Regions from separate parts of the Homo sapiens genome. Here region 2 is linked to region 1. A link means that fine-mapping ties the variant in region 1 to the plasma level of a protein whose gene starts in the linked region. Region 1 holds a variant in brackets. A gene starts in the other region. All regions are shown on their forward strands.

Region 1 (2,888 bases):
TGTGCCTGTAATCCCAGCTACTTGGGAGGCTGAAGCACGAGAATCACTTGCACCTGGGAGGTGGAGTTTGCAGTGAGCCGAGGTCACACCACTGCACTCCAGCCTGGGTGACAGAGTCTAAAGAAAAAAAAGTTGTTTAGGCCATAGAATCCAAACATTTCTTGACCTCAGTTTATATTCTGAGTCTTTGGAACTAAAAATGTTAGATAAGGAACACTGTAATGGGAGAACACTTATAAGAAAAATAAATTTCTATTTTTTAACTAACATATGTGATCAAATACCCACAAAAGGCAGAGAAAGGGGTTCCTCCCTGCTGATGGGGACAATGACTTCACTTCCCTTTACCTGACTGAGTATCCAGCATCATGACCACCCACTGCTCAGCTGTCAGCCGTGTGACAGAATTGTCTTTCATGATCCAGGAATCTGGGGCCTCTGCAAACACCACGCAACAGAAGGGCTCCACTTGAATCACACAGACATAACCATCCAGGACATCTTTTTGGTACACATTCAGGATTTTTGTAGTGAAATTTACCTTTGGCTTCTCACAGCAGAAGTGGAATGTAGGCAATTTTTCTATGCAGTTTTCGATTTCTTTTTTTAGTAAGTCAGGATTCACTTTTTCCCACTTACATCCAACCACTTCTTTGCTCTTATCATCCACCCCAATGAGGACATATCCCCCTTGAGTGTTGGCAAATGCAGAAACATAATGAGGCAGCATTTCCTTAATCCGAGGTATGACTTTTTTGGTGGTGAACCTTTTAAATTCAACATGTGTTGACTCAGTAAAGTTGAGTTTCTCCTTATACATGAGTTTGTCCTTTTTAAAAAATTCTGAGGCCAATATCCTCATATCTTCCTCTTCCTGAATGCATCTATTGAGAACCTGCTGAGGATGCAACTTCTTCACCCTTGGTCTTCCTCTTTGGGCTCTAAACCCCTTCTCTCTGAGAAGCTCCAGGGCACTGCTAGCACTCAAGTTGATAGCAGAAGTCACATCTCTCCGATACAAATTGGAGCGCAAGCTGCAAATCCTTAGTGGAAGGCTGAAAACATCTGGGCTCCATGACTTCACAAAAATCAGGAGATTGTGCCCCTGCTGCATGTAGTCAAGGTATTTCTGTGAACCTGAAGGAAGGAGCTTTTGAAAAGAAGTTTCCAAATCCTGTCCCAGCCCATGGCATTGGTAACTATAGGTTTTATCATCAATCTCTGCTTTGATCACACCACCTCCAGAATTTAACAGTGCACATATAGCCCGGATAATTCTAGAATTCTCAGATCTTTTCAAACAGCTGTTGGTCATCTTCTTCCTGTTTTCTTCTCCAAAAATCACTCTGCCCACATCTACTATTACCTCAGGATACGGCATTTCAGTATCAGTCTTGAGACTCTCCATTTCAGCAGCCCCTCTGTGCTCCAAACAATAAAAGAAAGGAGTTCCTATAATCAGGACAGAAATATTGTTTCTATATTAATAAGAATTCCAAAGATTACAATATTTTCTTCAAAACTATCAATTACTGGAGATATATTTTAATGTTGGAAGTCATCTCTCTCTATATGTATATTTGTTGTTGTTGTTTGTTTTGGGTTTTTTAGTTTTGTTTGTTTGTTTTTGAGATAGAATCTTGCTCTGTTATGCAGGTTGGAGTGCAGTGGCACAATAATAGTTCTCTGCAACCTCAACCTCCCAGTTCAAGTGATTCTCCAACTTCAGTCTCCCTAGTAGATGAGACTACAGACACGTGCCACCAAGCCTGGCTAATTTTTTTTTTCTTTTTTGTTCTTGCTATTTTTTTTTTTTAAGAGATGGAGTCTTGCTACGTTGCAATCCTCCTGCCTGGGCCTCCCTCCCAAAGTGCTGGGATTACAGATGTGAGCCACCGCACCCAACTGGAAATTATCTTTGATACTGCTGTTTTCTAATCACTTTGCCAAATATCCTTAGCCTTGCCAGAATAAGTAGGCATGGATAAAGGTGAATGCCTAATATTTGTCATAATGGAAAAATTAAATTGCTAACATTTTCAGCCATTTTGCATTTCAAATCAGGAAACGCCAACACTGAGCCCAGATATAAAGGGCATGGGTTGGCACAGGAGCCCAGGAAGGTATTGGAGAATATGCAGAAATAGAAGTTGAAGTGAGAAGATGCTCTTATTTATAATTCAAAAGGGGAAGAAAGGAAGGCACTAGAGAACTAAGGAAGTATAATTTTACAGTATATGTACTGTAGAAGATCTTGCTATAAACACAAACATAGGCTGGGTGTGGTAGCTCACATGTGTAATCTCAGCACTTTGGGAGGTGGATGTGAGAGGATTGCTTTCGATCAGGAGTTGAGACCAGCGTGGACAACATAGCAAGACCCCATCTCGACAAAAGA[TAA/T]AAAAAAAAAAAATGTTAAACATTAGGCAGGTATGGTGGTGCGCACCTGCAGTCCCAGCTACCTAGGAGGCTGAGGTGGGAGGATCTCTTGAGCCCAGGAGTTTGAGGCTGCAGTGAACCATGATCGCACCACTGCACTCCAGCCTGGGCAGCAGAGTGGGAACCTGTCTAAAAAAATAAAAATAAAAGTAAATAAATAAAATTCTATATTTTTATGTATTATTTCATACACTTTGAAAAGCTTTATTTTACTCCTGAAAGAATGTCAGTTGATACCAAATGCAGAAACCTTTTCAACTCTTCACATGTTCTAAATCTCAAAAGTACATTGCCTCATATACAGTGTGATGTGACAGCAGCATTTTCCTTCCCTTCTAATAGTTCTGCCCTGTGCTGTGGAAACCCCTAAGACTTGGAAAAGAACATGAGCTTTTGGGGCATGGTAACTAAACCATTGTCACCCTTCTTTTGCTTCCTAGACCAGAAAA
Region 2 (2,851 bases), not on the chromosome of region 1:
GAATCAAATATTTATGCCAGCTGCTCCTTACAGTACTACGAATAAGGACCAATATGCTACTTTCATTTCCACAAGAGCTTTAGCAGAACTAACGACTGTCTGACCTCTACCTTCTTATTTTATTCTTGAGGTTTCCACTACTAAAGTATAGGAAGGTCCTGGTCTCAAAAATAGCCACACAGGGCAAAAGGGAAAAACAAATAAAAGCCTGGTTCAGAAACGCCCCATCCTCTGTTAAGTTCAAGTCTTTACATTTCAAAAGACAGCCTTAGAAATTAAGCTCACCACAGTGCTGATCTTCTTCTTCCCATCGGTAGCTCTTAACAGACACTTGTTGTCTGCGGGCTCAAAGCCCTCCACAGTACCCTTCTTTGGAATGGGTTTGGTTCGACCGTCATCTGAAGGAAAAAATGCATCCTGGTGAACACGGCCGCGTACGTGGCTGAGCGGCAGACAAACAGTTAAAACAGAGGAGTGGGGTAAGTGATGACCTAACCCAGCCCCGCTGCTCTAGTTTTGTTAAACACCTCATCTGCTATCACGGTCTGGCGAAACCCTGGAGAAACTATTATTTCCACGACGGAAACATGTAATATCGAAGCACGTTAAATTCCACTCAAAGTGGCGGCGTCTGGGATCCCTGACAAAGAGCCCTGGGCTGCTTGGGGCCCATTGTTACCAGAAGCAACCTAGGCGGCTCAGTGCTGGGGACTGAGCCAGCTACAATCCCTACTATTTTCCGGGCCCGAAGCCCCGAATGTGCTCAGTACAGGGTGGGGAAAGGTAGAGGAAGGCGGCGGTCCGCGGCAGACAGACTCCGGTGGCTCCCAGACACCGGGAACCCAGGGAGCATCGCCCGGCTCCCCTCCCGCTGCTTACACTTCTTCAAGGTGATATAGACGCTGCCCGACGTCCGGCACTTCTGGAAAAGTCTGGTCAGCTCCGTCAGGAACTGGAAAACAACAGGCCCAGCCCCGTTAGCCAGCCCCAAATCCTCGTCCTGCCGCGTCAAGGCCCTGGTCCTCCTGCAGGAGGCACAGGTCTCGAGTAACGCCTGAGCCGCCCCCTTCCCTCGGCCGGCCAGGCCTAGCCATACCTGCTCGCTCTCCAACAACACCATCGCGGCGACGCTGGCTCGACTCCCTCCGCTTAAGCCCCTAGCAGTGAGAGCCGGAAGTTCGGCCTAGGCTGGGCGGGACTTCCGCTACTAGACTTCCATTGTCTTCCACCAATCTCTTCTCTTCCACCAATCCCGGCCTGCGCCCTCCCCCCTCCCCGCCCGCCTAGCGCCCGCGCCCTGGGACGTCCGGGGGCCTGTGACCCGGAGGCGCTGGGGCTGTCCTGGGTCGTCACATGCGAGAAATCGTCTCACCCCAGCCAGTGTGACGGAGTGAGAGCAAAAGAAAGTTTTGATAGCAGCGTACGATTTATATTCAGCTGTATGCTGGGCAGGTAACCTAACAACTCAGTGACTCAGTTTCCTTATCCATAAAGTAAGGGTAATGATAGTATCTACCGCGCAGTGTGGTCGTGAAGCGTAAATGAAACTCAGATTAAATACGTAGAACAGTGCCTGGCACATAGAGCGTGTTCAGTAGGTATCAGCTATTGTTCTTTTCATTATTGTCATTATAAGTTCCTGTAGAGATCCTTTAAACTCTCCCTAAACGCTGACCTGCAGCTCTAGCCAGAAGGGCTGGGCCGGGCGTGGTGGCTCACGCCTGTAATCCCGGCACTTTGGGAGGCCGAGGCGGGTGGATCACGAGGTCAGGAGATTGAGACCATCCTGGCTAACACGGTGAAACGCTGTCTCTACTAAAAATACAAAAAAGTTAGCCGGGCGTGGTGGCGGGCACCTGTAATCCTAGCTACTCGGGAGGCTGAGGCAGGAGAATGGCGTGAACCCAGGAGGCAGAGCTTGCAGTGAGCTGAGATCGCGCCACTGCACTCCAGCCTGGAAGACAGAGCGAGACTCCGTCTCAAAAAAAAAAAAAAAAAAAAAAAAAATGAGGGGCTGGAGCCCAGTCTTTAGTTCTACCTCTGATTAGTCAGGAGAACTAGGTTGTAAGCCCTCTCTGCCACTAGCCAACTTGAACCCTGGGCCCTCTATAAAGTCAAGCATTCCACCACACAAGAGGTTTTCGCTGAGTGCCTCTCAGTCTGTGCCAGGCACGGTTGTAGAGGTTGGGGATGCAGCAGGATAAGAAAAGCTAAGTTCCTGGTTTCCTGGAAGTTGGGTTAAAGGGGCAGGGAGGAAATAAACAATGAAGCAAACAAGTAAGTAGTACAGCTTCAGATAATGAATTCCGTGAGACAGCCTAAGCAGGGCTGTATAATGAGAGTGGGAAGGGGACTGCCTGGGTTGGGGTCAGGGGAGTTCTCGTCGAAAAGGAGAACTTTGAGTTGAAAGCTGAAAGGACCAGCCATCCAAAGATCTAGGGACACAGTGTTTCAGACACAGGGAACGGCTAGAGCAAAACCTTCAAAGGGGAAACAAGTTGCCCTGTGTCTGTAAGACTGGCAGGTGCGGGTGGGGGTGAGGAGGGCTTGTGGAGCAAGGAGTAAAGGAGTATGGAGAGGTAGCTGGGGACCAGATTATGTAGGGCCCGTGACCATAGTAAGCCTGGATTTTGTTCTAGATACAAAGAGAAGACTCGTTAAGGAAGTTTTCAACAGAACACTGAAAATCTGATTTATATTTTTTAAAGATCCCCCTGTCTGTGTTGTGGAGAATGCACTGTAGAGAGACAGGGCAGGAAATGAGGAGCCCAGTTAGGAGATTCAAACTTAATGGCTTAAATATGTTCACTCTCTGATTTCACATTTTCTTCCAAATGGCCAGCGCCCGTTG

Which allele goes with the higher level. Alleles are on the strand shown, and positions count from the first base shown. The strength of an association depends on the size of the effect and on how common the allele is.
With allele TAA in place of T in region 1, the plasma level of the protein whose gene starts at base 1,185 in region 2 is lower (moderate association).

What was found. A credible set is the group of variants that fine-mapping cannot tell apart. PIP is the posterior inclusion probability: the model's chance that the variant is causal. Protein levels are from antibody-based Olink assays in UK Biobank. Linkage for the fine-mapping came from a reference panel and not from the study's own genotypes, which makes the PIPs less certain.
Region 2: it holds the start of SRP14, and the variant in region 1 is the best candidate, but not a certain one, in a credible set for the plasma level of the SRP14 protein (UK Biobank, PIP 0.67).

What each region holds. Positions count from the first base shown.
Region 1 is chr17:35,556,655-35,559,542 of GRCh38, forward strand. SLFN14 (schlafen family member 14) reads right to left here. Exons shown (of 6, transcript NM_001129820.2): 3 at 349-1,452. The coding sequence starts at 1,408. Among named protein-coding and RNA genes, the nearest start is that of SLFN14, 2.7 kb to the right of the region's middle. The variant TAA/T (reference allele first, on the strand shown) is at 2,399.
Region 2 is chr15:40,037,997-40,040,847 of GRCh38, forward strand. SRP14 (signal recognition particle 14) reads right to left here and starts at 1,185. Exons shown (of 5, transcript NM_003134.6): 1 at 1,097-1,185; 2 at 880-952; 3 at 286-398. The coding sequence starts at 1,120. SRP14-DT (SRP14 divergent transcript) reads left to right here and starts at 1,315. Exons shown (of 3, transcript NR_040060.1): 1 at 1,315-1,452. It overlaps LOC124903471 (a long non-coding RNA gene), which reads left to right. Exons shown (of 2, transcript XR_007064596.1): 2 at 1-413. RefSeq lists enhancers at 203-1,148, 849-898, 919-1,098, 1,149-2,093 and a silencer at 1,179-1,388.